Homo sapiens: one gene and its partners. The protein of the gene in region 5 purifies or fractionates together with the protein of the main gene of each other region. This does not show direct contact. Each region holds a gene or a part of one and is shown on either strand. Other genes may lie near its edges.

Evidence for each region.
Region 1: the proteins of HACL2 (region 5) and TTC27 purify together in Homo sapiens (co-immunoprecipitation; 2 studies listed by BioGRID and IntAct, with this or other methods). This does not show direct contact.
Region 2: the proteins of HACL2 (region 5) and PIGG purify together in Homo sapiens (co-immunoprecipitation; 2 studies listed by BioGRID and IntAct, with this or other methods). This does not show direct contact.
Region 3: the proteins of HACL2 (region 5) and XPO6 purify together in Homo sapiens (co-immunoprecipitation; 3 studies listed by BioGRID and IntAct, with this or other methods). This does not show direct contact.
Region 4: the proteins of HACL2 (region 5) and TNPO3 purify together in Homo sapiens (co-immunoprecipitation; 2 studies listed by BioGRID and IntAct, with this or other methods). This does not show direct contact.
Region 6: the proteins of HACL2 (region 5) and TBC1D9B purify together in Homo sapiens (co-immunoprecipitation; 2 studies listed by BioGRID and IntAct, with this or other methods). This does not show direct contact.
Region 7: the proteins of HACL2 (region 5) and INTS1 purify together in Homo sapiens (co-immunoprecipitation; 3 studies listed by BioGRID and IntAct, with this or other methods). This does not show direct contact.

What each region holds. Positions count from the first base shown.
Region 1 is NC_000002.12:32,805,634-32,809,894, reverse strand, and holds part of TTC27 (tetratricopeptide repeat protein 27), read right to left. Parts: intron 1-4,261.
Region 2 is NC_000004.12:505,434-509,694, forward strand, and holds part of PIGG (GPI ethanolamine phosphate transferase 2, catalytic subunit), read left to right. Parts: intron 1-284; coding exon 285-494; intron 495-1,971; coding exon 1,972-2,160; intron 2,161-3,395; coding exon 3,396-3,537; intron 3,538-4,261.
Region 3 is NC_000016.10:28,097,476-28,100,888, forward strand, and holds the end of XPO6 (exportin-6), read right to left. Parts: intron 1,165-3,413; coding exon 1,063-1,164; 3' UTR 501-1,062; downstream 1-500. UniProt on the Homo sapiens protein: Mediates the nuclear export of actin and profilin-actin complexes in somatic cells.
Region 4 is NC_000007.14:128,957,612-128,961,872, forward strand, and holds part of TNPO3 (transportin-3), read right to left. Parts: intron 1-4,261. UniProt on the Homo sapiens protein: Importin, which transports target proteins into the nucleus. Specifically mediates the nuclear import of splicing factor serine/arginine (SR) proteins, such as RBM4, SFRS1 and SFRS2, by recognizing phosphorylated SR domains.
Region 5 is NC_000019.10:15,115,530-15,119,790, reverse strand, and holds part of HACL2 (2-hydroxyacyl-CoA lyase 2), read left to right. Parts: intron 1-275; coding exon 276-373; intron 374-488; coding exon 489-625; intron 626-1,775; coding exon 1,776-1,910; intron 1,911-3,268; coding exon 3,269-3,383; intron 3,384-3,469; coding exon 3,470-3,639; intron 3,640-3,719; coding exon 3,720-3,790; intron 3,791-3,869; coding exon 3,870-3,941; intron 3,942-4,119; coding exon 4,120-4,225; intron 4,226-4,261. UniProt on the Homo sapiens protein: Endoplasmic reticulum 2-OH acyl-CoA lyase involved in the cleavage (C1 removal) reaction in the fatty acid alpha-oxydation in a thiamine pyrophosphate (TPP)-dependent manner. Involved in the phytosphingosine degradation pathway.
Region 6 is NC_000005.10:179,872,939-179,877,199, reverse strand, and holds part of TBC1D9B (TBC1 domain family member 9B), read left to right. Parts: intron 1-1,162; coding exon 1,163-1,280; intron 1,281-2,012; coding exon 2,013-2,298; intron 2,299-3,951; coding exon 3,952-4,081; intron 4,082-4,209; coding exon 4,210-4,261. UniProt on the Homo sapiens protein: May act as a GTPase-activating protein for Rab family protein(s).
Region 7 is NC_000007.14:1,472,974-1,477,234, reverse strand, and holds part of INTS1 (integrator complex subunit 1), read left to right. Parts: intron 1-316; coding exon 317-441; intron 442-577; coding exon 578-665; intron 666-779; coding exon 780-1,006; intron 1,007-1,163; coding exon 1,164-1,287; intron 1,288-2,396; coding exon 2,397-2,530; intron 2,531-2,874; coding exon 2,875-3,067; intron 3,068-3,541; coding exon 3,542-3,669; intron 3,670-4,050; coding exon 4,051-4,163; intron 4,164-4,261. UniProt on the Homo sapiens protein: Component of the integrator complex, a multiprotein complex that terminates RNA polymerase II (Pol II) transcription in the promoter-proximal region of genes.

The DNA of each region.
Region 1 (4,261 bases), on a different chromosome or scaffold from region 5:
CACCCGCCTTGGCCTCCCAAAGTGCTGGGATTACAGGCATGAGCCACTGCGCCCGGCCTAACTTCTTGGCTATCTTATTATCATCAGTCAGCCTTTACACATTCTATCCCAGATGCTTTGAATGCTGACAGATGGATTAAACTGCAGTCTGCACCAGGTTATATTATAAAAAGGCACATCTGTCATATCTACATTAGGCTGTGTATCTGAAGGCACAGAAAACACAACCGCAATCTTCCACTCCTTTGATGGTGGGACAGCAAAAGAACCAGCTTGAGGAAAGTACTGTAACACCATGCTAGTCAGTGCAGTCCATGGACCGACAGCACTGGCATCAGAGCTTGTTAGAAATGCAGAATCCTGGATAAAAATGCTGATCCATCTTGGACCAAGATTCTGCATTTCCAACAAGCTCCCAGGTGATGCTGATGTTGACGGTCTGCAGGGCACACTTCGAGAAGCAAGGCTCCAAGAGACAGCTGCCCACATCTTTAATTTTACCGTGAACTGCAGGGAGAGGATGGCATTTTATCATTCTGTATCACCAGTGTTTAATATAGTGCCTGGCATATTGCAATTGCACTGACTCAATAAATAATTGTGCCTGAAAGACTGAATGAATACAACTCTTTCAGAAAGCGTAGCTGAGAGAAATGCAACCAGTGTGAGATCTTGCTGTCTCCTCCTAGAACATTCTGATCCGTGCATGAGATGTGGCTGAGGAGTAGGGGCTCCTCTGGAACATGGATACTTTTAGGAATGTGAACTCAGATTCATGGTCTTAATTATATACAGTCATAAAAGAAGACAGAAAATTCAGTTGTGCTTTTTTCTTGTTTTGACAAGGTACATCATCTCTGTCTGTAAATTCACATTACAATCCCACATGTGTACCTTTGACTCTTAAAGTAATGAAATTCATATTACAATCCCACTGGTGTTTTAAATCTGAAAGTAACAATGCAGAAGAAACAGTCTGAATGTGTACTGCTTGTTTCAAGTGATCATTCTATAAGCATGTCAGGTATTAACATGTTTTGAAAAAGATGGTCTATTAAAATAGTTACTAACATGTACAAATGAAACACACTAATGAGTGATGCTTTGCTTCTTCTGGAATCCCACAGTTGGCTCAACATCCTATCCCTTCACTTTAGCCTACTGGGGAGACGATGTGGGGAGAGACAGCTTTTGGTGTTCTTGCCAATAAAAATGAAGAGCTGTAGTCCTGGCATTAAGGAGGGAAAAAGTTGGTAAAGTGCATTTGTGCCTCCTCTGTGTATGTGTGTGTGTTTGCAGGGGCATGAAGGGAACTGCAGAAGGGCAAGGAGGTGAAGCTTCTGTCTGTTGTGGGGGGTAGACAGGGGATAGAACTGTAGGTAGGGCAGATACTGAATGCCTCTGCCCAGTTCATATGCAGATACCACCAGAAGAGAGAGGAGGGAGGCAATAACCAATTTGTTTCACGCTCCCCATCTGCATGTTCAATGGCCAGTGAAATAGCTGGGCCTGGAGCTTAGAAAAGAGTTCCACATTGGAGGAATAGATAACGAGAGTCATTGAGGGTCATGGCAGATATTGCCTAAAGAGACTGTGTTGGGCAAGAATAAGGCTGAGGATAGAATCTTAAAGAACACAACATTTAAGAAGAGGGCAAGTAGGTTGGGCGTAGTGGCTCACGCCTGTAATCCCAGCACTCTGGGAGGCAGAGGTAGGCGGATCACATGAGGTCGGGAATTCAAGACCAGCCTGGCCAACATGGTGAAACCCTGTCTCTACTAAAAATACAAAAAAATTAGCAGGGTGTGGTGGTGGGTACCTGTAATCCCAGCTATTTGGGAGGCTGAGGCAGGAGAATCACTTGAACCCAGGAGGGGAGGTTGCAGTGAGCTGAGATTGCGCCACTGCATGCCATCCTGGATAACAAGAGCGAAACTCTGTCTCCAAAAAAAAAAAAAAAAAAAAAGAGGGCAAGTAGAGAACTCACTCATCGAACTGAAAAGGAGTGGCCAGAAAGGTAAGAAAGTGATGTCATGGAAACCAAGGAAGGAGAAAGTTACAAGGAAAGTCGATCTACAAAGGATCAGGAATGGAAGATTCACCTGGATTTGGCAATCATTAAGGGTGAGTGACCATAATCCAGAACCAAAGCCAGAACAAGGAAGGCAGGAGAGATCATGATTTCAGACAAGAGGCTTAAAAAGAAAGAAAAAACATAAAAACCAAGACGATTATTAACATCACAAAAAATGAAGAGAAACCCCCCATAATCATAGTATCCTATAATACTAATTTTCAATATCCTTTGCATAGGCATTTAGTGTATTTGTTTAACCAAAATTGTTAAAATAGATATATTAGGATGATGAGAAAGAGAAGTAGTGGAAGTGCCGGTATGACAGTTCTCATTTATTATAAAAAGATAAGAAGAAGTCAACAAATAATGCCTCATTTTGTTTAATTAAAAAATAACAGCAATATAGTAACTATTAATATGAAATATGGAAATGTGCAAGTAGCAGAAGAGACGCTAAAGGGTTTCTCCTTTTTTGGGAGAAGGATTTTGAAGAGTAAGGAGGGGTAAAGAAGGAAATTGGTATACTTTGTAATGAGCCTTTTACTATTATTTGGCTTGTAAAACTATATATCTGTTATTTTAATATACATTTAAAAACAGAGAAAAAGCAGACATAAATACATCTAAAGATTGGCAAAGAAGAAGAAAAAAATGATGACACACATGAATATTCATTTATTAGACTTGCCTTTAATGTCCCATAGTGGTGATTACCTTGAGGGTATTTGGGGGTAGTGGTGACTAAAAGAAGGAAGGGAGGGTTTGGGGAATATGGGGAGTGCTGGTAATGCTCTGACTCACCTGGTTACACAGGTGTTTTCACGAAGAAAAAATTCTTATGTTTACTTATGATTTGCATACTTTTCTGTATGTACACTACATTTCAATAAAAATTAATTTAAAATTATTCCCTGTACTTAAGAAAACCTCATAAAGTGAAGTAAAAATATGTAGTGTTATTTAAGTACATTAATAAATGAAGCTAATATTCAATCTTAAAAAGTGGTTCTAGAGTGATATCAACTTTTTTTTTTTCTTTGAGACAAAGTCTCGCTGTCGGTCAAGCTGGAGTGCAGTGGCGCGATCTTGGCTCACTGCAACCTCTGCCTCTTGGTTCAAGCGATTCTCCTGCCTCAGCCTCCCGAGTAGCTGGGACTACAGGCGCGTGCCACCATGCCCGGCTAATTTTTTCTGTATTTTTAGTAGAGATGGGGTTTCACCGTGTTAGCCAGGATGGTCTCGATCTCCTGACCTCGTGATCTGCCCGCCTCAGCCTCTGATAGCAATTATTTTTAAAAACCATTACAGTAATTGTATAACTTACTGGCTAATATTATCATTTTTATTCCCACTAAGTCAGAAAATTCAAATTCTGGTTATCCAGACTGACTGCAAAAGCAGTAACTTTTAATGTAACATATATATAACCTTTCTTTAGAAAATAGATATTTGAGATTAAAAGGAGTAAAGAGTGTTACGATAGTATTTCTTTGATTAAATGAATCACCCATGAGTACAATTTCCTCTTGGGTAGTCTACAAATTTACCAGCACTATACCCCTTTGCCTCATCAAAAGTGAAAAAAAATTTAAATAGGTGAATGTTTTTACCCACTGTTACATGTAAATTGTTATAAGTAATTAACCTATCAGCAACAAGTCAAAACTATAAATTACTACATATGTAATAAGTGGCTCAAGAGTAGAAAATTGAAGTTTAAGATTTTAGAGGTGGAATGACTCTTGGGGAAACAGGACCCAAGATATAGCCACAGGGATGGGTTGTCACTGAAATAAAGACTAAGGCCTCTGTTATGTCCAAAGTACTGGAGATATTATCTACCTAAACACCAAGTATCAAGATCAGCTAGATCTAGAATGGAGAGGAGGATACATAGTTGCTGAAGTAGGTCATGAACATGGGGAAGGGACTAGGAGCCTGGTAAATAGCAGTAATGAGCACAGGCTTTCTGTCCACTACATTACAGAACTGTTCCATCAAAGGGGCCAATATACAGGTAAGAGGTTTGAAAAGTGTGAAGCAATATAAACATATAAACTATTACAATTATCATTGATCCTCAACTACCTTACTCTGTTGGAAGTGGACAGTAACACCACATTGCTGGCTCACTCACTGTACTGCCCTGCCTGTTAGCTTACTTCCATGTTTCCTCATGGTTCA
Region 2 (4,261 bases), on a different chromosome or scaffold from region 5:
CAACATAGCGGGACCCTGTATCTACCAAAAAAAAAAAAAAAAAAAAAAAAAAAGCTGGGTGTGGTGCCACACACCTGTAGTTCCAGCTACTTGGGAGGCCAAGGTGGGAGGATCGCTTGGGCCCAGGAGTTCAAAGCTGCAGTGATCCCTGATTGCATGACTGCACTCCATCCTGAGCAACAGAGAGGGACCCTGTCTCAAAAAAAAAAAAAAAAATCTTCAGTGCCCTTTTCATGCTCCGGTTTTGGATTCAGTGGCCTAATTCTTGCATTTTCTGACTGCAGGCATTGATGACGGGGAGCCTTCCTGGCTTTGTCGACGTCATCAGGAACCTCAATTCTCCTGCACTGCTGGAAGACAGTGTGATAAGACAAGCAAAAGCAGCTGGAAAAAGAATAGTCTTTTATGGAGATGAAACCTGGGTTAAATTATTCCCAAAGCATTTTGTGGAATATGATGGAACAACCTCATTTTTCGTGTCAGATTACACAGAGGTCAGTTTTTAAAATAAGAAAATATATCATACTAGAATATCATACTAGATAGAGCCTGGCATCCCATTACTTAGTGAGAGATGATACCATTTTATATTTGGTTTTATTAATTTATAGGGAGTACTATGGACAGGTGTAAAAATTATTCACTCACATAATCAGTTAACAACCCAGAAATACAAACCTGAAGCAGGTGTGAGCAGAGTTTTATGGAACCCAAAGCTTAGAACAGCTGAGTGCCATTGAGGGGCAGAGAGGATCAGGAAGGGTGACACAGCCAAGGGACTGTCTGAGCCGAGATATGATGGGTGAGTGGGGACTCCCCAGGTGGGCAGAACAGGCTGGTAGCTTCTGCACATGGCAGAGCTGTAGGACTCCACAGCCTGTTGGTTCTGCTGCAAGCGGAGCCTCATCGTGCCCTGAGGGCAGGTGGCCGACTGGGTGGGGCCTGGTCCTGAGGGGGTTTTCCTGGAGCTTTTCCAACAAAAATTAGACCTGCATGTTAGAAAGCAGACCTGGGGCTGAGGTAGGAGCACACCAGCACACCTGCCTGGCCTGGGGTTTAGCCAGCTTCACCTCCTAGATGGCTGGGCCTTATGGAGCATCTGTAGTCCTATCCTGTTCCAAAGTGGGGCGCTTTTCAACAGTTACTTTTCAGTAATGACTGAGTTTTCCTGACTATATATGGCATCACTGAGAAACACTTCTCTTCATAGGAGATTTTTTTAGTGGGAGGGAGATGAGCTAGCTGAGGGGTCAGGGCTCACCAGGCTGACAGCTCTATTGGGGGCTGATCAACTGCTCATCTCTCCTCCGTGATGTGTTTATTTCAGAAATCAATGTGATCATTGAGTGCTGTGTCTTTTTCAGAACAGCCTTCTTGTAGGACACATGTAGATGCCCTCAGCTTCATCATCCTGCTGGTTACTTTAACGCTGGGTACTGTCCTGTCTTTAATTAACTGCCCTTTGCCCTTAGTTACCTCATGACAACTTGGGATCTATTTAACTTGCCCATTTGCTCACCTTCAGTTATGCCCATTAAGCCCAGCAGTGATCCCACAGAAAAATATTTTTGTCAGAAGAACCCTTGCTCATTTAAATTATCTGTAGAATATATTCGATCCATAGCCCAGAAACATAAAAACAATATTAGCAAAAGTTTAATCCAATGCTAATGTTCATTTATTTATTATAGACGTGGGGTCTTGCTATGTTGCCCAGGTGGGTCCTGAACTCTTGGCCTCAAGCAGTCTTCCCGCTTCAGCCTCCTCAAGTGTTGAGATGAAAGGCATGAGCTGCTGTGTCCAGCCTATTTATTTATTTTTAATGACATAGATTTTGTTGTGTTTCAACTCCCCCAAATCCTGTAACCTGAATAAACCCCTAGATTTTAAGATGACTGTTGCGTTTTCCCCGGGGAGTGAAGATCCAGGGAAATTAGGTGAGTTGTTTATACGTGTGTTTCCCCTTCAAAGGTGGATAATAATGTCACGAGGCATTTGGATAAAGTATTAAAAAGAGGAGATTGGGACATATTAATCCTCCACTACCTGGGGCTGGACCACATTGGCCACATTTCAGGGCCCAACAGCCCCCTGATTGGGCAGAAGCTGAGCGAGATGGACAGCGTGCTGATGAAGATCCACACCTCACTGCAGTCGAAGGTGAGGCTCGCCGTCGCTCACTGTCTGCTGATGTGGTTTCACGTGGATGTTCCCTAGAATAAATGCAACCGCCTGAGTTATTCAGGGTGCCTGTGTGAATGTCCACCATCAGTCTGCTAGCCAGGGGCCGCATGCCACACGGGCAGCACTGTCTCAGTGTCCACTGCACTGACTCCGTCTTCCAGCAGCCCTGCAGAACAGCAGCTCTCACTCCTACCCGTGTATGCATTCATTCAACTAATACCTCCTGAAGACCTTTTGTGCCACTCTCTCTGTTCTGTATCACTCTCTCTGTTCTGTGCCACTCTGTTCTGTGTCACTTTCTGTTCTGTGTCACTCTCTGTTCTGTGTCACTCTCTCTTCTGTGTCACTCTCTGTTCTGTGTCACTCTCTCTGCTCTGTGCCACTGTCTCTGTTCTGTGTCACTCTGTCTGTTCTGTGTCTCTGTTTCTGTTCTATGTCACTTTTTGTCCATGCATTTGGGTGCATCAGTGAAACAGTCGATAATCCCTCGTGAAGCTCACGCTCTAGCCAGGAGAGATGAGAAAGATGAGTAAATAAGTATGTGAGGAGGTGATGGGTGCTGCAGAAACTCAGAGGGCAGGAGGAGGGGCTTTCAACAGCGTGTTGAGAGAAGCCTTCCCTGAAGACGTGTGCAGGGTGAGCAGAGACTTGAAGGGAGGGAGGGGCAGACCATGTGGTCTGTGCACGAGTGTTCCAGGAGGACCAGCAGCGAGGGTCAGGCACAGCCTGCCTGGCTTGTCCCGGAGCAGCAAAGGATGTGTGGCTGCAACCCCAGGGGCAGAGAAGCCTGGTGGGTGCCCCCACATGGCTCAGAGCTCTTGCCTTTTGCTGTGTGTTGTGTTCTCACCAGAGTCCTGTGAAAGATTCCATTTGACAGATGAGGCGACCAAGGCACAGAGTAGAATGCGTCCAGAGTCTCACAGCTTGGCAGTGGCAAAGACAGAAACCAGATACAAACCGTCTGCCATCAGAGGGCAGAAATGCAGCCTGCTGTGCTCCATGAGCTGTGTACAATTCTGTGAACTTCATTTATGGCATTATTTGACTGTGACCCTGTGATCTGGCTATGAGCTCATAGGAAAAAAAAATCTAATTCATTGAGAAAGAGCTACAACTCTATAAAGTAAAGCTAAAACCGAAAATTGTCTTCTTAAGATGATGTGCTCTCTTCAGTCTGAACGCAGTTGAAATGTTTTTCCTTTGCCTTAAAGGAGAGAGAGACGCCTTTACCCAATTTGCTGGTTCTTTGTGGTGACCATGGCATGTCTGAAACAGGAAGTCACGGGGCCTCCTCCACCGAGGAGGTGAATACACCTCTGATTTTAATCAGTTCTGCGTTTGAAAGGAAACCCGGTGAGAATTTAGGAATGTTAACAGTTGGAAATTGTATTACATTTGTTTTCTATAGTCTGGTTTTAATTTTGAAAACCTATTTTTTAGAAGCTCCATAAGGTTGAAGTCCCCAAGCAATGTGAGCATGAAAAGTAATTGGGCAAAAGGCTTTTGGGATCTGAAGTTACGTTCCTTCCCGAATCCTTAAAATACAGTTATTCTTTGTCAGAATTTTGTTGTATGAATGTTGCTGCCTGGATATCTGGAACTGTTGAGAAAAATTGCCAGTAGCTCAGAGACATCTGGACAGCATGTGTGAACTGAAGGAAACGTGAATACCTCGGCTTTTTTAAAAGTTTGCATTATTGTAAACCATCTATTGAATAGCAGTGTCAACAAGAGTCATGGGACCCGGCCAGAGCAGGACAGACAGAGGCCCCGTCTGTCAGTATTCAGACACGCCCCAAACACACACACACCCCACTCTGACCTGTGCCCAGACTCAGCCGCCAGCCTATGCACTCTGCCCTCGCGGCCGCCGGCCTTGCTGTCCTGTCGGCGGCTGCCTTCCACTTGCGCCTGGCTTCTGCTGCCACACTCGCTGCCTCACTCTTGGTGAGCTCAGCGGTAATTTCTGCCGTCAGGCACAGCAGACGCTTTCGGGCGCTGCTCTCACTGACCCTTCAGCACCCTTAGTGCTGCTGGTCCCGTAGCTTCTGGGACCTCACATCTTTCTGGTTTTCCT
Region 3 (3,413 bases), on a different chromosome or scaffold from region 5:
CAATCCATCATGAGACCCCACCTCCCTGTCCTCCAGCGAGACTTCAGGCCACGGAGGGCCAGGTCCTGCTGCACATCGTGGGAAGGAATCTATTCCCTAGCAGGTGGGGGAGGTGGAGCCCACACTTCCCACCCTGGGGGGCAGGGGGAGTGGGTGCCACAGGGGCCACAGGAGTCAGGCAGCCTGGACTCCAGCCTCCCTCCACCACCAGGCCAACCATCAGCAACACCCCCTCCCAGCCTCCAGCCTCCACCAGTACCAGGCCAACCATCAGTGAGACCCCCTCCCAGACTGCAGCCTCCCTCCATCATCTGGCCAACTGTCAGTGAGACCCCCTCCCCTCGCTGAGTAAGAGCAGTCAGGGAGATGCCATTAGAAGGTGGGAGACGCCAGGAGCCAGCCCACTCCAAGCCGCACTGCCCACATTCCCATCAGGATGCACCTTGCTGGGAACCCGGCCTCAAGGAGGCTGTGAGTAGCAAGCAGCTCCCCAGCCAGGGTTTCTAGAACAACAACATAGGCATTTTATTTCTTTTCATTAAGCTTCTTAGTTTCTTAGTATCACAATGGAATGATGAGAAAACAACAAAAACGTGAGTCTTTGCAAATCTCTGACAAAGAGCAGAGATCTCAAGGCAATTGGGGCGGGGGAGGCTTGACAGAAGTGCCAGAGCAGTTCCAACGTCACATCTCTCCTTGGCTGGAATGGTGAGAAGGTGGCACTGTCGTGAGCTGTCCTTGGCAATTCTGCCCCATGAGCCACGTGCGCCTGGTCTGCATGGGCCACCCCGCGGGATTTCCTGGTGCCTCCTAGTACCTGGCCACACACCCCTCCGCCTGCTCCAACGCCCTGGGAGCACCGTCCAGTGCTCAGGTGGACCCAGAAGCCAGCTCTGCTGGGCAGCGGCAAGATGTGGAGGAGCGGCAGAGGCAGGCAGCGTTGCTTGCGGTGGGAGAAGCCAAGGAGTGTGACCAAGGCCCATCTGGGAGACATCTGTGGTGGAAGGTAGGGCTGGCGCAGGTGGCAGCAGCAGAAGTCCGTGTCCCCAGGCAGTAGCAGGCCTAGAGCTTCACAGTGCCAGGGGGCAGGCTGTCGTTGCAGAGTCTGTAGTAGCGCAGGTCGTTGACCAGCCTGTGCACATTCTGGGTGAATGAGGGCAGGTCCTGGAAGGCAGGGGCATAGCTGCAGCCAACAACACACCAGGTCACCCACCCACCAGACCCCAACAGCTACTTCCATCCCAGAGTGTGCACTGAAGATAGGGGAGCACTTTCTAAAACTCAAAACTTCTATTCACTGTTGCACTGCGTGTCACAGAGACTCTGTGCCAGGCGCTGTGGGAGAAAAAGAACAAGAGGAATACGTCCCTAGGGCCTCTCGGGTGCCAGACACTGCTGCAATCAACATACAGACATCAACTCACTGAGTCCTCACCACAAGGCTGCCACCAAGCCCTACCAGAACCACTAGTCTAAGGACAGAAAGACCAAAGCGCTGCACCATGAAGAAGCTGGCCCCAGCTCACACTGAAGAGACCAGCACACTTGCTCCTGAGTCCGGCCCCTCAAACGCAGACATGGCTGTGGTGACAGCCCTCTTCTTCACCATGGCCCCTTGAGGTGACGCGCACACCGAGCAATGTCTGCAGAACCTTTACCCACGGGGCTCCAGGCCGCCCCTGCCCCTCGAGAGCCACCCGAGCAGCAGCAAACACAGTCCCAAGGCCTGTCCCACTGGGCGCAGCGTGGGCCATGGAAGGCCCTGGGCCAGAAGTGAGGCCCTGACCTCCGCCATCATGCACACGGTGAGACCCTGCTTTTTTTTTCAGTGTAGGTCCCGGTGAGGACTCAAACAGGCCCAGCAAGCCCCAGCAGAGCCATGAGCAGGACCAAGTTCATTTTCCTGCCCAACCACTATTCCTCTTCCAGAACTCCATTCAAAGCCTGCCTCTTCCCAAAGTCTGCACAGATGCCTCCTATTTCCTGGCCCCAGCAGCCAGCTCAGCGCCTCTGTCCTGAGCAATCTGCTTCTGGGGAGTGTGTGCAGGCTCTGGGGCCAGAACACCCAGGTCTGCCTCCTGCTTCGCAGCTCTACCACTTCCAAGTTCTGTGAACTGCTCACCTTCTGAGCCCCCACCATCTGTGAAATGGGGGAGTAACAGGACCCACACTTCAGAGGCTTGTTAGAAGGCTTACTCGAGCCAAGACATGTCACATGCTTGGCACTATGTGGTCCACAGAGGGTGCTGTATTGGCCTGTCTACCATGAAAGACTTGGTGAAGGCTGGGACTGGTGCCCCAGTTCCTGGCCCGGGGCTTGAGAAGCAGCTGGCTTCAAACACACAGTGCGTGACTGAATGGAAGGTGGTGATTCTTTTATTTTACCCTCAAAAAACCAACTAAGGGATGTCTTTTAAATCAGTGGCTCCCAAATGCCAAACCAGAATTTCCTGGGTAGAACACAGAAGTCTGTTTCTCCATTTTTAATAAGTACCCCAGGTGCTTCTGATATAACTAGATTTTTTTTTTTGAGACAAAGTCCCACTCTGCCGCCCAGGCTGGAGTGCAGTGGCACAACCTCCGCTCACTGCAACCTCTGCCTCCCGGGTTCAAGAGATTCTTGTGCCTCAGCCTCCCAAGCAGCTGGGATTACAGGCGTGTGCCACCACACCTGACTAATTTTTTTTATTTTTAGTAGAGACAGGGTTTCGCCATGTTGGCCAGGCTGGTCTCAAACCCCCTAACCTCAAGTGATCCGCCCGCCTTGGCCTCCCAAAGTGCTGAGATTACAGGTGTGAGACACCGCGCCTGGCCTATAACTAGATTTTGAAACCACAGCTTTAAATCAAAAAGTTGACTGATATTGATGTCGTTAGAAGCTGATCATTAAGTATTAGGATCTGGCCTCTAGAAAAAGGAAAAAACATATCCAGGGGCTGAAGTGAACTGGAAGAGGCTTAGGAGAGAACAAGTCCCAAGAAAAGGAAGACCCCAAGACAAAGGAGAACAGGATGAGTCTAAGCAAAAGCTTCCCTGCCACACGTGGCAAATGAGGAAAGCAGGCGGCCAGGTTTGCACCAGTGAGAGCAGTGTGTGCATCTGAGCACTACGGTGGAGCCGTGGACAAGCTGCTTCACAGAGGACTCAGGTCAAGAACCCCAAGAGGACCAGGGAGAAAGCGATTTCTTTTCCTAATTTCATCAAGTATAAAACGGTACAAGGAAAAGTTCCCAGAAGTTCCTATCAGGCAAGAGAGAGGCCTGGTCACCTGACACAGGAAGAAGAGAACAGGTGAGCCCCATGGGGAAGGAGGTCCCAGGCACTGTCAGGCTCCAACAAGATGGCCTCATGGACACCAAGAGCCAGCAGCACCCAGCTCCCACCGAGGTGCTGCACGGGTGGGGACAGCCCAC
Region 4 (4,261 bases), on a different chromosome or scaffold from region 5:
TCCTCATCTATTAATATTATCTACTTCATAACACTGTTTAGAGGATTAAAATCGTCCACATACAGAGTGCTTATGAAAATAGAGCAGTGAACAAAATAGTATTCAATAAATGTAGGCTGCTACAACAACACTTGGTTGCTACGGCTCTCATAAGTTTCCTCATTCTCTTCCAAAGATAGATTTTGTTTACAAAGGCCGGTCTAGCAACTAAGTCTCCACCAGTCATTGATTTTCTAGTTGAACAGGCTGCTCAGGATTTCCTCCTGTGGGAGGAGGAGGGAGAGAGGAAAGGGTTAAAGCATGTAGAAAGAGAGACAAAGCAGGAGATGCCTATGTGATATGAATAGCCCAATATTCAACTGACCCTGTTTTTTCAAAAGCCCCCCGACCTCCCTTTGTCCAAAACTGTCACCAAGAAACCAGCTGATGCCAGCTTCATTCTACTGTATCTGTCTTCATAACAGTTTTTGCTAAATGAACATAAGGCTAAGCTAAAAGCTAAAGCAGTGGAGAAGGAAGCACTTCCTTTTTTTTTTTTTTTTTTTTTTTGATATGGAGTCTTGCTCATGTCATCCAGGCTGGAGTGCAATGGCACGATCTCAGCTCACTGCAACTTCCGCCTCCCAGGTTCAAGCGATTCTCCTGCCTCAGCCTCCCCAGTAGCTGGGATCACAGGTGCCCACCACCACGCCCGACTATTTTTTTGTATTTTTAGTAGAGATGTGGTTTCACCATGTTGGCCAGGCTGGTCTCGAACTCCTGACCTTGTGATCCGCCCGCCTCGGCCTCACAAAGTGCTGGGATTACAGGCATGAGCCACCGCGCCCAGCCAGGAAGCAATTCTTAATATGCTTGCCTTCCTGTAGCCCTCTCCCTGGCTCAACTAACTCAGATACCAGTGCCTACAGCCAAGGATTCAATGCAGATGAAAACACACTTTCCATCTCATAATGGTTAAACACCAGGGGAGGAAACTGCTCTAAGCGATCCAACAGAAAAGGTGAAAATAGAGCTATCCATTTAGGTTCCTACATCCAGATTTCCCCATCCATTGTAAGTTCTGAAACATCATTAAGAACCTTGACTTAGACTCCATGACTTGATTCAACAGAACATTCTAGAAACTTTCTTCTAGTCTCTCCATCCTAAAAATGTAATGAAAATAAGGCAGGTGGCCAGGCACAGTGGCTCATGCTTGTAATCCCAACACAGGGAGACCCCGTCTCTACAAATAATTTAAAACTTAGCTGGGTGTGGTGGTGCACACCTGTGGTCCCAGCTACTCACGAGGCTAAGGCAGGAGGATAACCTGAGCTGGGGAGGTTGAGGTTGCAGTGAGCCATGATTGTGCCACTGCACTCCAGGCTGGGCAACAGAGTGAGACCCTGTCTCAAAAAAAAGAAAAAAGAAAGAAAATGAGAAAGGTCTTTTGGCTTTATTGGAATTGCCATTACCTCTGTGGATTTAATAAGCTTCAATTTAAGTGTTACATTTCTCATTTTACTTCCAAATTAATACTGACTGTTAAGGAGGCAGCCAGGGTATGTGAGCCCATATCACTCATGCTCCCAATGTCAGGAAGGAGGAAGATCTGTAACCCAAGAGAAGTTGCTATGTGGTGTGTTATCACAAGGGACTAGGATAACAGAAAACCCTGAAAGTTAGGACAGTGCTGGAGACCGAGATTTTTTTGCTATCCTAATGTCTTACATGTTTTAAATTTTACCCTTCCTCAAGAGACTTCTGTTTTGTTTTGTTTTCAGAACAGATAGAAACAGGGTCTCATTGTGTTGCCCAGGCTGCTCGAACCTCTGGGCTCAAGCTATCGTCCTGCCTCAGCCTCCAAAGTGCTGTGATTACAGGCGTGAGTCACTGTGCCCAGCAGAGACTTTGGAAATGATAACTTCACAGCCTCCTTTGTGGCACATGAGAAAAAGTATTGAAACTGAAATGCAAGTGTGGGAGAACTTTAGTGCGATAGGGTGAAATGAGGGACAGGTGACACTGTCAACTTGGCTTCTGCCCCAATCCTATCTGCAAGTGCTTTGGTGTCAAACACTTCAGCCAAATGTTTAACTGAAGTGTCCTTGGTGGGGAGCCCATAGAAATGGATCAAAAAGCTCCTTGAGGCCGGGCGCGGTGGCTCACACCTGTAATCGCAGCACTTTGGGAGGCCAAGGCGGGTAGATCACCTGAGGTCAGGAGTTTGAGACCAGCCTGGCCAACATGGTGAAATCCATCTCCACTAAAAAGACAAAAATTAGCCGTGTGTGGTGGTGGGCACCTGTGATCCCAGCTACTCGGGAGGCTGAGGCTGGAGGATCGCTTGAACCCAGGGGGTGGAGGTTGCAGTGAGCTGAGATCACACCACCGCACTTCAGCCTGGGCGACAGAGCAAGACTCCGTCTCAAAAAAACGAAAAAGCTCCATGAATGTTAGAACTATAGTTATGTGCTACAATGATGTTTTGGTCAATGATGGACTGCATGTATGACAGTGATCCTATGAGTATAATAGAGATGAACAACTGCATGTTGCGTTACTCACATGCTTGTGGTGATGCTGGTATAAACAAACCTACTGCACTGCCAGTCATATAAAAGGACAACACAAACAATTATCTACAGTATACAATAATTGATCATAAGCAACTATATTACTGGGTTATGTATTTACTATACTACACTTTTTATCATTAATTTAGAGTATATTCCTTCTACTTACAAAAAAAAAAAATTTACTGTAAAACAGCCTCAGGCAGGTCCTTCGGGAGGGATTCCAGAAGAAGACATTGTTATCCTAGGAGATGGCAACTCCATGTGTGTTACTGCCCTTGAAGACCTTCTAAGTGGGACAAGATGTAAAAAGGTGGAAGACAGTGATATTGATGATCTTGACCCTGTGTAGGTCTAGGCTAATATGTGTTTGTGTCTTAGCTTTTAACAAAAAAGTTTAAAAGCTAAAAAAAAAAAATAAAGTAATTTTAAGAATAGAAAAAAGCTTATAAAGATATAAAGAAAAAATTTTTTAATGAGCTGTACAATTTGTGTTTTAAGCTAGGTGTTATTACAAAGGAGTCCAAGAGTTAAAAAAAATTTAGTTTATAAAGTAAAAAAGTTACAGTAAGCAAGAGTTAATTTATTATTATTATTATTATTATTATTTTGAGACAGAGTCTCACTCTGTCGCCCAGGCTGGAGTGCGGTGGCACAATCTCGGCCCACTGCAACCTCTGTCTCCCAGGTTCAAGCGATTCTCCAGCCTCAGCCTCCTGAGTAGCTGGGATTACAAGTGCCCACCACCACGCCTGGCTAATTTTTTAAATTTTTAGTAGAGATGGGGTTTCACCATGTTGGCCAGGCTGGTCTCAAACTCCTGACCTCAAGTGATCTGCCTGCCTCGGCCTCCCAAAGTGCTGGGATTACAGGCATGAGCCACCGCGCCTGGCCAAGGGTTAATTTATTATTGATGAAAAAAATTTTTTTATAAATTTAGTGTAGCCTAAGTATACAGTATCTATAAAAAGTCTACAGTAGTATACGGTAATGTCCTAGGCCGCCTATTCACTCACCACTCACTCACTGACTCACCTAGAACAACTTCCAGTTCTGCAAGTTCCATTCATGGTAAGTGCCCTCATACAGGTATACCTTTTTTTTTCTCTTTTATACTGTATTTTTACTGTACCTTTTCTATGTTTAGATATGTTTGGATATACAAATTCTTACCATTGTGTTACAATTGCCTACAGTATTCAGTACAGTAACCTGCTATACAGGTTTGTAGCCTAGGAGCAATAGGCTACACTATATAGACCAGGTGTCCGGTAGGCTATACCATCTAGGTTTGTAGAAGTATACTCCATGACGTTTGCACAACAACTAAACCACCTAATGACACATTTCTTGGAACATATCCCCATCATTAAGTAACACATGACTGTATTTTCTGTCTCGGTCCTTCTGACGTTTGATATTTCTTAGCTTTCTATTTATTTACTTTTTTAACTGCCAGTATTTTTTAGATTCTGTTTTCTGGCTTCTAGTCCCCAAATTCCTATCCTTCCACCATATTTCTGAAAGCTTTTATGGTCACTATTTCTCGAGCCCCATAAGATTACTAGAGGAGTGCTGAGAAATGAGATCCTTTTGATCCGATGACCTGGTAGGTAACAGAAAATAATGAAACTCTGATGACTTGACTAGGGATTCAACCCCTTACTGGCCTCTAATTCCAGTATCAATGCTTCCCATGTTCAACA
Region 5 (4,261 bases):
TCACTTGAGGCCAGGAGTTCAAGACTAGCCTGGCCAACATGGTGAAACCCTGTCTCTACTGAAAATACAAAAGTTAGCCAGGCATGGTGGCACGCGCCTGTAATCCCAGCTACTCTGGAGGCTGAGGCGGGAGAATCGTTTGAACCTGGGAGGTGGAGGCTGCAGTGAGCTGAGATCATGCCATTACACTCTATCCTGGGCAACAGAGTGAAACTGTGTCTCAAAAAAATAAATAAATAAAAAGACAGCCCTTTGATCCCCACCTCTCGCTCCAGGTTCAGCGCTGTGTGGAGATCCTGAGCCGGGCCAAGAGGCCTCTGATGGTGCTGGGGAGTCAGGCCCTGCTCACCCCAACGTCTGCCGACAAGCTTCGGTGAGAAGCGCCAGCCCTGCCCTTGTTTTCACGTTCCCAGTCCCCAGTCCTCGGGTGCTCTTGGGGAGGCGGGAGGCCCCGGCCACACTGACCTCTGCTCTGCCTGGACTCCCAGGGCTGCCGTGGAGACCTTGGGTGTTCCCTGCTTCCTTGGAGGGATGGCACGGGGGCTGTTAGGCCGCAACCACCCCCTCCACATCCGGGAGAACCGCAGTGCGGCCCTGAAGAAGGCGGATGTCATTGTCCTAGCAGGTGGGCCTGAGCCTCTTCCTTTCCCTCCTTCCCCCAGGAACCCCCTCACCCTGTTACCCAGCTTCACACGAAGGAGGAGGAAGGTCTAGTGGGCACCTATTGTACTTGATACACATTTTCACATAAAGCGCTTTGAACCCAACCAGACGCATAATAGGTGTATCAGATAGCTACTGCCCTGTAACAACCATCCCCAAACTCAATGGCTAAAAATGCATTTCTGATTTCTCAAGATCCACCTATAAGGTAGGTGGTAGCTGTGGTTTTGGCTGGGCTCATTCATGAGTCTGCACTTGGGTTAGGCAGGAAGGCAGCTGTGCTGATCCAGGCTGGGCTTGCTCACCTGTATGGGGATTGGCTGGCCCTGCAGCTCGTCTGGGATGGCCTCAGCTGGGGTCATAGAGTTCTTCACCCCTGTCTCCATGGCCCCCTTGTTTCTCATCCTCCAGTAGGCTAGCCTGGGCTGGCCGACTTGGTGAAGGATGAGAAAACTATGGGGCTAGGAGAGTGCGGTTATTCAAGAGAGTGAGTGGAGGCTGTGTGGCTTCTTGAAGTAGAGTCTGCAGGAATGGGGGGTGGGGGTCCTGAATCATCTGGAGGTGTCTTCACTCAGAGGTCTTGCAATTGACGCCAGCTGTTGGAGGGGCTGTGGACTAGGGCAACTACACAGGTCTCTATGTGTGGCTCCGGTTTCCTCCCAGCATGATGGCCTCAGGGTAGTCAGACTTCTTAGACAGAGAGCACATTCCTTGGCCCCACCCAGGCCTCTAAAAGTGAACAAGGAAGAAACTGCATATCTTCCTTGTTGGGTGTCATGGTGTGTCACTTTCAAGGAAAGGGGACCTAGGCTGCACCTCTCTCCATGGGAGGCATGTCAAGGTGACCTTGTACAAATGGATGTAGGGTGGGAGATATTATGGCCATCTGGGAAAATATAACCTGCCTCTGCCCTATCCTGTTGGCCAAAGCATGTCATGAGGCCAGTCCCGATTCAGGGGGTGTGGGGAGCTGCAAGGTCACTGTAGGTGGCACAGGTGCAGGGAGACTCGGTGAGGAACAGGGACTCATTTGCATCCAGTCCACCACAGTGGATCAAGTAAGGTAGACGACATGGGGCCTCTGCCTACTGCATTCCTGTCCCCCACACCAGGAACTGTGTGTGACTTCCGCCTATCCTATGGCCGTGTCCTCAGCCACAGCAGCAAGATCATCATCGTCAATCGTAATCGGGAAGAGATGTTGCTCAACTCAGACATCTTCTGGAAGCCCCAGGAGGCTGTGCAGGGTGAGCCCCTTAATCCCCCCGTACACATATGTGCTCCTCCCAGTCCCTCTCCTCCTGGTTTCTGCTGCAGCTGGCTTGAGCCTGGTACAGTGATTGAGGCCCAGACCTTGCCCTAGGGGTAGCCAGTCAACCAGAGACAAATAGTTGGCTCTCAAACTGATGAATGCTTCTTTCTTTAAATTTTTTTTATTTTTATTTTTTAGAGACGAGGTCTCGCTCTGTCACCCAGGCTGGAATGCAGTAGTGCAATCACAGCTCACTGCACCCTCAAACTCCCAGGCTCAAAAGCAATCCTCCCACCTCAGCCTCCTGAGTAGCTGGGACTACAAGTATGCACCACCATGCCAGGCTAATTTGTTAATTTTTTTTTGTGGAATCAGCATCTCACTGTGTTGCCCAGGTTGGCGTGGAACTCCTGGCCTCAAGTGATCCTCCTGCCTCGGCCTCTCAAAAGTGCTGGGATTACAGACCAGAGCTACTGCGCCCGGCCTGATAGATGCTTCTGTAGGAACAAATGGTGGGGTGGACACAGAGGGAGGCTTGAAAACGTGCATGTGATCACGTTCCCTCCCACACTGCCCACTGCCCTCAGGACAGAGAGCACACTCGTTGGCCCCTTAGCCTGTCTTCCTGCCGTATCTCTCCCCTCCCCTTATTTTAGTCCCCTTGGACTTGAACTTGGTTCATCATTCTGAGGATGTTGACTCCCCTGCAGCCTAGGCGACAGGACACTCTTGTATTAAGCAGAGAAGTAGCACCGTTGCATCTGTGTTGGGAAGGTCCACTCAGCAGCCATGGACGGCAGGCCGGAAGGGGGCTGGGTGGAGGCCAGGGGGGCTGCTCAAAATGGCCAGGACAGAAGCGAGGAGGCCTGAACTGGAGATGAACAGCGGCAGAGCCTCACCTTCTCAGAGCCTCCATTTGATCATTTGAAAAATGGGGTGGTGAAAGATACATCACGGGGCTGTTTGTTAGTTCACTTCAGTAACGTTCGCTGTGCGCTTCCACGTGCCTGGATTTGAGAGATGTGCTTGGTGGATGTAGCTCTTTTCATTGAGTGTTTCCCAGGCAGAAGGAGGTGGAGGGAGGGGACGAGGCCAGCTTGGGTTTGTCACCTGCCTTGTGCTCCTTAACCCTTGTTTCTTGGGCCTTGTCTTCCCTTTTCACCTGGGCTGCCCTCCCCTGGTTCTGGCAGGTTCTGGGGTGTTTCACCTGTTTTTTTTCTAGGAGCACCCCTGGCCTGCTTCCCGTCTGCCTGCTCGGATGCTGCTGCTGGCTTCCTGCTGTTTTGAGGCCTCTGATGCTGGAAGAACAGGAGGAAGCCAGCTCCCCACAGCTGTGTCCTCTTCCTTCCCCAGGAGATGTGGGTTCCTTCGTGCTGAAGTTAGTGGAGGGCCTTCAGGGCCAGACCTGGGCCCCAGACTGGGTGGAGGAGCTGCGGGAAGCCGACCGGCAGAAGGAGCAGACCTTTCGGTGGGGCCTGGGTGGAGTGGATGTGGGAAGGGGGTTCCCGGCAGACCCTGCTGCCAACCCTGGTGACCTTCGCTGTCCTGTCGCAGGGAGAAGGCAGCGATGCCTGTGGCCCAGCACCTGAACCCAGTGCAGGTGCTGCAGCTGGTGGAGGAAACGCTACCTGACAACTCAATTCTGGTGGTGGATGGCGGGGACTTCGTGGGCACTGCTGCCCATCTGGTACAGCCCCGCGGCCCCCTGCGCTGGCTCGATCCTGGTAAGGAAGGGCCCCCGCCTGGGGCAGTGGGCACCATCCATCAGGACGCCTTCACACCCACCTGCTCTTGGTCCTCTTAGGGGCCTTTGGGACTCTGGGAGTTGGTGCAGGATTTGCACTTGGGGCCAAGCTGTGCCGGCCAGATGCTGAGGTGAGGCACTGGAGTTGGGAGACTTGCTGCTCTCTAGGTCCTGATCCACCCTAACCATCCTGGGTCCCCTCCCGACTAGGTCTGGTGCCTGTTTGGGGACGGAGCTTTTGGCTACAGCCTCATCGAATTTGATACATTCGTCAGACACAAGGTGACTGGGCTGGCCTGAGGGAAGCTTAGGGCCTGGGGTTCTGGGAGATGTCACCAGGGGTGGGCTGAGGTGGGGAGGGAGCCTCCTCTCTGGCAGAGGCCCTATCCCTGTCTCTGTCCTCTGGCTGGCCAAGCCATGGGGCTGAAGGCTGCGGCCTGCCTTCATCATCTTCCTGTAGATCCCAGTGATGGCCTTGGTAGGGAATGATGCTGGCTGGACACAGATTTCTCGGGAGCAGGTGCCCTCTCTGGGCAGCAACGTGGCCTGTGGCCTGGCCTACACTGGTGAGGGGGCCTCAGCGAGGTTGGGAGGACAGGAGG
Region 6 (4,261 bases), on a different chromosome or scaffold from region 5:
TTGCCCAGACTGGCCTCAAACTCCTAGGCTCAAGTGATCTTTCCGCCTCAGCCTCTCAAAGTGCTGGGATTATAGGCGTGAGCCACCAGCCACCATTCCTGGGCTTTTTTTTTTTTTTTTTTTTTTTTTGAGACAGGATCTCCTTCTGTTGCCCACACTGGATCTCAGTGGCATGATCATGGCTCACTGCAGCCTCCACCTACTGGGCTCAATCGATCCTCCCACTTCAGCCTCCTGGGTAGCTGGAACTACAGGTACACACCACCACGCCCAGTTACTTTTTGTATTTTTTATAGAGATGGGGTCTCACTGTGTGGCCCAGGCTGGTCTTGAACTCCTGGGCTCAAGTGATCCGACCTCCTCAGCCTCCTAAAGTGCTAGGATTACAAAGTGTGAGCTACTGTGGCCTGGCCTATTTTTAATTTTTTGAGGAACTCCATACTTCCTCCCCAGCAGCTGCACCATTTTATATTCCCACCAGCAGTTCACAAGGGTTCCGATTTCTCCACATCCTCATCAACACTTGCTATATTCTGTTGTTGTTAGAGTGATGGGCATGAGGGTATCTAATTGTACTTTAGGTTAGCATTTCTCGCAGCTTTTGATTTTAAATCTAGGCATTTTCCTGGCCAAGTCATATGGCTTTCTGTTTGCCTTAAAGGTCTTGTTAGCAGCTAGGGCTGTGTGTGGTCCTAGTTGTGCACCGAGTGGGTGGCCTTGGTGTGGGGCTCTGGCCTTGTGGCTCACCTCCACATCAGCTTGGTCATAATCCCACCTCCAACACCCAACACCACTCCGCAGAAGTGTGATGTGTTGATGTTCACCTTCTCTGGTTTCCCAGTGCCTTCTGACCCAGTTTGAAGGAGTTGGCAGACTCTCTGTTCCATCAGTTTCCTACAAATTGCCTTTTGACATTTCCCAGAGTTGGGTAGGGGCAGTTTCTCATTACCGGATGCCCAGCCCTCCTGAAGAGGCAGATTTGCTTGTAGGAGGAGGCCATTAATCTTCACCACGAGAACCTGAAAAATAATAAAAATAACAACAACAAAAAGAAGATCATGTGGGCCCTTGCAGGGAGGGGTGGCTGGGAGGGGTGGGGAGAGACAGTTTTATTTGCTGGCCAGCAGTGCAAGCCTTCCCCGGCTGTCTCTGTGCCCGGCAGGCAATGAACATCGTGACCTCGGTGCTCCTGCTCTATGGCAGTGAGGAGGAGGCCTTCTGGCTCCTGGTGGCCCTGTGCGAGCGCATGCTGCCCGACTACTACAACACCAGGGTGGTGGGTGAGTGTCCCCGGGTGCTGCCTCGCCTGGGTCTCCAGGTGCCTGCTGGTTCCATGAGGGTGGCAGCCCTTCCCAGGCCAAGCTCCAGGCTTCACGTGGGTTCCCTAGGAGTTAGAGGGTAGTATTACACATTCGGTGGTTTATAAAAGTCCCCTCAGAGCCTAAATTCCTATCCATCTAACTTCCTGTCAACTTTTTGATTATGGAAAATTTCAAACATCAAAACTAGAGAGTATATATCCCCCATGTAACCTGATGCTCAACTTTACTGAACTCATATCCAGTGAAATCTGTTATGAAGTGGAAATGGACTTGCAAGAGTGTTTAATTAGGTTCATATTTAAGCATGTTATCCTGTCCTTCCCCTGCTGTCTGGTGTTTGGAGTTACCGCTCTTGGGGTCCTTCAGAGCTGCGTCTATTCACAATCATCAGGATGGGACAGAGTCATTGAGGGTGCTGTTTACCTCTCATGCCTTACGGAGAAATCAGTATTTCCCCAAAATAAAATTCAAGTGTAGTAGAAGAAATAGTTATTTCGCCCAGTGGTTTGGGAGCTGTAGAGAGACTTGAAGGGTTTTTTCGTCCTTGTTTTCTCCCAGCACTCCAAGTCTCCCTCAGCCCTCACTGCACAGCTGGCAGGGCTGGAGTGGCCAGGGCTCGTACGCTGCAGGTGAGGGCCCACCCAGGCCACAGGGTGGGCTCACCATCAGCCTCGCTCATCCTGCCCGCAGGAGCCCTGGTGGACCAAGGCATCTTCGAAGAGCTCACGAGAGACTTCCTGCCGCAGCTCTCGGAGAAGATGCAGGACCTGGGGGTGATCTCCAGCATCTCGCTGTCCTGGTTCCTGACCCTCTTCCTCAGCGTCATGCCCTTCGAGAGCGCCGTGGTCATCGTCGACTGCTTTTTCTATGAGGGCATCAAGGTGATCCTGCAGGTGGCCCTGGCCGTCCTGGACGCCAACATGGAGCAGCTGCTGGGCTGCAGCGACGAGGGCGAGGCCATGACCATGCTGGGCAGGTGACATGCCGGGTTCCTTCTCCTGCTGGGGGCTCACAGCAGAACCCCTCACCAGCCCCGGGCACTGTCCAGTCAGCCTGAAGTGACTGTGCCCACCAAGTGCCAGGCTGCAGCTGGACCCGGGGGTGCTCTGGGGTCAGGAGGCGGCTCCTTTCTAGTGGGAGATGAAGCAGCGCTCAGTGATAGGTGCCAGGAGGAGTAAAGCAGGCACTGCGGGCAGAGCATGCTGGCTGGAGGGCCACCGCTCAGATGTAGGGTTGGAGATGCTTCCCCTGAGGGCAAACCAGAGCCAAGATCCAGTGACCACAATTCCAGTTGGTGGCACAGCTGGGCATTTCATGTCCACCAGGTGGTCCCGGTCATACCTCTCCAAGCTCAGCTGCATTGCAGCCCCCATGCCCTGGAGGGAGCAGGCCTGCCCTGGGCCCGCTGGAACAGCTGGATGAGCTGATGTCCCACTAGTCACGCCAAATGTCCAGGGTCATCCCAGCCCCTCCACCCCCTCCTTAGTCCCCACATCCCATCTCTTGCAGATTCTGTCTGGGATCCAGCCCCTTCCCTTCAGCCTGCTGCCTCAGCCCAGGCCCACCATGCCCTTTCCCTGGGGTTCCCCTCTCAGTCTTTGACCTGCCTGCATCCCATGACTCTGATCAGACCTGGCCCTGCCCCTTCCCTGGGTCCTCTGTACAAAGGCACTGTCTGAGCCTCCAGCCTGGCCTTCAAGCCCCGGCCCCTCCTGGCTACACTCTGCCCTGCCCTGAGCTCTGTGCAGTCCCACCCTCCTACATAGCGTATTTGTCCGGACTGGAATGCCCCCAGCCCCCAGGAACAGCCTGGGACTCTGCCACTTGCCCATGGCCAGGCCAGGTGCTGCCTGGGACTCTCTAGATCCAGCAGGGTTGTCACCTCCCTACTGTGGGCCTAAGTAGCTTTTGGTCCACACTGATGTTAAGATACTCAGCCTGTGGCCGGAGTCTGTGGCTGGTTTTCCTGCCGCTTCCTACAATAGGCGGATAGGGCCTCCTCCAGAGCAGGGGTCTGACTGGGGATATGACCAGGGCTATGGGCATGGGGAGTCAGCTACCTCCTCCCACCTGAGTGTCAGGCTCAGCCCAGGGACCCAGAGAGGCCATGAACTCTGGCGGGGCTAGGTCAGCTGACAGAGGTAGGGCTCCATCCCCAGGACTGTGTCCCTAGAGAAGCTGATTCCCTGGGCTGCAGCAGGCCTCCCCACACCTGACTTTCTCCTGCGACTCAACCTTTGATCCCTGAATCTTCTTGGCCAGGGCGAGAAGGTCCCACATCCCCAGGGCCCCGCCAAAGGGAGGAAGCTCGTCATCCTTCCAACTGGGTAGGATCTGGGGTTATAAGGCGTTCCTGCCCAAGGGACCCCCCCACTGACTAAGAAAACAGCCCAGCGTCCTCAGGGTTAGTGCTCAGGCCTTGTCGGGGGCACTGCCCTGTAGAGGGCTCCCCAACTTGCTGGGGGCGCTGCCAGGGCACACCTCTGCCCTCCTGCAGGGTGCCCAGTCCTCTGCACACTCCTTATTAGGAGTCTGCATAAAGATTGGGTCCCTCCGCATCACCCAGCTGTGGGAAGGAGGCTCCCTCTGCCTGGGCGTGGTCTGGACTGTTGTCCTCTGTCCTTTGCAGATACCTGGATAATGTGGTCAACAAGCAGAGTGTCTCTCCTCCTATCCCGCACCTCCGTGCCTTGCTGAGCAGCAGCGATGACCCCCCTGCAGAGGTGGACATCTTTGAGCTCCTGAAAGTGTCCTATGAGGTCAGCACCCAGTGGGGCCATTTTGGCCAGGCCGCTCCATCTGGCATGTGGGTTGGGGTGGCTATGGGCAGGTGGTGGCCCTCTGCCCTGCAGTTGGCTTGATCTCACCAAGTCACCTCTCCCTATAGAAATTCAGCAGCCTGAGGGCCGAAGACATTGAGCAGATGCGGTTTAAACAGA
Region 7 (4,261 bases), on a different chromosome or scaffold from region 5:
GAATGGGGCTGTGGCCAGGAGAAGGGAGGGCAGGTGCTGGGCTCCCCACATCCTCCAGGGAGGGACGGCCTCACCAGAGAGGCTGCATGGAGCCCCGGGCACCTCCGCTGTGTGGCATGGCTCCCGTGGGAAGGGGCGGGGAGATGCAGCGCAGCCACCAGGAGCGGCCCTCCAGCACCATGACGGGGCCGGTGTTACCGGCAGCACCCCAAGCCTCGGCTCTCTGAGTGGCTCATTGGGGAAGCTGTCAGCTGACTTCAGCAGAGCCTGCCATTGGCCCAGGTGAGGCCATCCGGGCTTCTTCCTCCCTCCCCAGGGCAAAGGTCAGGCCCAGGTGCCCTCGTTCCGTCCCTACCTCCTGACCCTCTTCACGCATCAGTCCAGCTGGCCCACACTGCACCAGTGCATCCGAGTCCTGCTGGGCAAGAGCCGGGAACAGAGGTGGGCGCCTCCCTGTCCCCAACCTGGGCTGCGCGCATACTGGCCTTCACCAGAAATCTCCCAGCGCCGGCTCTGACTGGTATCTCCCATGCTGAGACGAGACACCTCGTGCTCTGGAACCTTTGCCTCCCCACAGGTTCGACCCCTCTGCCTCTCTGGACTTCCTCTGGGCCTGCATCCATGTTCCTCGCATCTGGCAGGGGCGGGACCAGCGCACCCCGCAGGCAGGTCTTGGGAGGGTGGCCCATCCGGGAGAGGGGGTGGCCCATCCGGGAGAGGGGGTGGCCCATCCGGGAGAGGCGGTGGTGCTCCGGGGCTGATGCAGGCACCCGTTACAGAAGCGGCGGGAGGAGCTGGTGCTGCGGGTCCAGGGCCCGGAGCTCATCAGCCTGGTGGAGCTGATCCTGGCCGAGGCGGAGACGCGGAGCCAGGACGGGGACACAGCCGCCTGCAGCCTCATCCAGGCCCGGCTGCCCCTGCTGCTCAGCTGCTGCTGTGGGGACGATGAGAGTGTCAGGAAGGTGACGGAGCACCTGTCAGGCTGCATCCAGCAGTGGGGAGACAGGTGCTCAGGCCCCCCGGCCCCAGATGCTGCCTGGGAGTGAGCCATGGAGGGGGTCGAGGCCCAGCCCTGGGTGGGTTCCCATCACGCCTGGTCCCGTCCACCCACCCCTGTCACTGGGGCCCCGTCCGCCTGGTGAGCCCTGCTCCACCTCTTCCAGCGTGCTGGGCAGGCGCTGCCGAGACCTTCTCCTGCAGCTCTACCTACAGCGGCCGGAGCTGCGGGTGCCCGTGCCTGAGGTCCTACTGCACAGCGAAGGGGCTGCCAGCAGCAGCGTCTGCAAGGTGAGGGCGCAACTCTGCCGCTCCCCGCCGCCGTCCCAGGTGCCCTGGCCGGGCAGGGAGGGAGGGCGGAGGCCACAGTGTACATGGCCATCGCCGGCTACCCCTCTTGCCCCTTCCCAGTCCGCGCCGCCCTGTGGCCCTGTGGGTTTGTCTGCGTTGAGTTTTATACCGAGGGAGCTTGCGGGTGCTCTGCTCGCACAGTCTGGAGAGTCGTGGTGTTGTGGGCACTGGGTGGCCTGCCATTGTGTGGATCGGCCGTTGGTTTATCTGTTCACCTGCTGGTGGACGTGGGGTCACGTTCAGTTTGGGGCAGTGACAGCTGCTGGGGACTCGTGCCCGGGTCTTGGCGGACGGCTGCGTCTGCTCCTCTCCAGTGACCCTGGTGGGGAGAGCTGGGCCTCCCGTACCCGCTTCCCCACCGCAGGCCGGAACCTGCAGCCTGTCTTCTGCTGGTACCACAGAGGGCAGCTGACTTTCTCTAATCATTTCTGCTTGTGGTTTTTTTCACTTATATGTCATTTTATTTGTTGAAATCACACTTGATGTGCAGTTTTGTGGAGGGTTTTTGAGGCAGGGTGTCTGTTGCCAAGGCTGGAGTGCAGCGGTACCATCATAGCTCACTGCAGCCTCAACCCCCTGTGCTCAAGTGAGCCTCCCACCTCAGCCTCCCGAGTAGCTGGGATCACAGGCACGTGCCACCACACCCAGTTACTCTTTTTGTATTTTTGAAAATAGAGAGGGCTATTTTCATTGCCCAGGCTAGTCTTGAACTCCTGGGCTCTGGTGATCTTCTGCCGCGGCCTCACAGAGTGCTGGGATGGCAGGCGTGAGCCACTGCGCCTGCTTGGCCGATGTGTAGTTTTGGCTTGTTTCCCGCTCATTGTATCATTTGGTGTGGAGCTTTGCTTTTATTCTGTATGGGGTTTTCCCAGAGGCTGGCTGTGGCCTGCCTGCCCTCCCGAGGTGCTCATGGAAGCCGTAAGGAGCCAGTTCCTCTGCTCATGGCGTGCCACGCGGTGGATCACGGCCACAGCTGGCGGCCAGGCTGAGTGTGGGTGGGCAAGTGAGGGGAGCCAGCGGCCCCGGCCTCAGAGCGCCCCTCCCTGCAGCTGGACGGACTCATCCACCGCTTCATCACGCTCCTTGCGGACACCAGCGACTCCCGGGCGTTGGAGAACCGAGGGGCGGATGCCAGCATGGCCTGCCGGAAGCTGGCGGTGGCGCACCCGCTGCTGCTGCTCAGGTGCTGTCCCAGAAGCCCTGCCCTCGCCAGACACTGGTTTAACCAGGGGGGTCTGCGGCTCTCCAGCCTGGGCAACAAGAGCAAAACTCCAAAAACAACAAAAAAAAGCATGTTCCCATGGGCTGAGCTTGACCGGGGGAAGTCAGGACTGAGCTGGGCCTCAGGTGGGAGGAGCTGGGTGGGCCTCAGAGAGGGGCGATCTCATCCCCACCTCCTTAGGGCAGGAGGGTGGTTGGGGGGCAGCACGGGGTCTGGCTCCCGGGGCAGGCAGTGGGGCCTTCCTGGGGACGTGCGCCAGGTGAGCCCGCCGGCCGGGGCTGACTGGGCCCTCACCGCGCCCGCAGGCACCTGCCCATGATCGCGGCGCTCCTGCACGGCCGCACCCACCTCAACTTCCAGGAGTTCCGGCAGCAGAACCACCTGAGCTGCTTCCTGCACGTGCTGGGCCTGCTGGAGCTGCTGCAGCCGCACGTGTTCCGCAGCGAGCACCAGGGGGCGCTGTGGGACTGCCTTCTGTCCTTCATCCGCCTGCTGCTGGTGTGTGCTCCCGCCGCCCGCCCTCGCGCTCCCTTCCACTCCCTCTGCTCTGGCCCAGGCCTGCCTCACCCACTCGCGGAGGGACTGGGAGGACCTCTGCAGCCAGGGCCCAGGCCAGGCCACCTGCCCTGGGGACCAGCTCCCACCCTGGGAAGCCCCTGCCTGCTGCCCCTCACGTGCCTGGGGGGCCCACGTCCTTCAGAAGCCCAGCCCAGACCCTCCGTGCTGTTCTCTGCGTGTCGCTTGTGCTACCTCGAGCCCCTCATCCATCTGGGCACATGCCCCAGACAGCCATGTCCACACCCTGACAGGCCATGCCGGCCACCCTTGGGCCTGTGACGCCCCAGTGGTTGGCAGAGGGGGCTCGTTGGCTGTGGGGTCCATGCCCTGAGGCTCTGGGAGCAGATGGGAGCACAGGCTCTGTTTTGGCCCTGCGGGGCAGAGCAGCTCGAGGGTGCCGCTTTTGCTTTGCAGAATTACAGGAAGTCCTCCCGCCATCTGGCTGCCTTCATCAACAAGTTTGTGCAGTTCATCCATAAGTACATTACCTACAATGCCCCAGCAGCCATCTCCTTCCTGCAGAAGCACGCCGACCCGCTCCAGTGAGTGCCCACGGGCTGCAGGGAAGCCTCGGGCCTCCGGCGAGGGTCCAGCGGGGTCTGGAGGGTGTTCCTGGGAAGGCCGTGTCGTGTCAGATATGCTGCTCCTGAGGCCGGGGAGGGCTGCTGAGCGTGGTGCTCATCCCAGGGCGCAGAGGCCGCCCCACCCTGTGCCGAAGCCGTCTGAACCCACCCCTGCAGCTCTCTGGCTCTCTGTCCCGTTCCACGCACATGTGGCTTCCCCGCCCGGCCCTCCCTCTGAGCGTCCTGGCCTCTCCTGCATGCCTGTGTCCACACGCTCCCATGCCACCCTAGTTTGACCCCTGACCCAGCCTTCCTCCTGCCAGCGTCTTCCTCCCAGGTGAAAGCATCTTCTCTCCCCAGCGACCTGTCCTTCGACAACAGTGACCTGGTGATGCTGAAATCCCTCCTTGCAGGGCTCAGCCTGCCCAGCAGGGACGACAGGACCGACCGAGGCCTGGACGAAGAGGGCGAGGGTGAGTGGGGCTGCCAGGGGCTGCTGGAAGCAGCTGCGGAACAGTCCTACAGGGCCTGGTTTTCCCAGCGCACAGCCAGCCCTGGGCCGTCCGAGGCG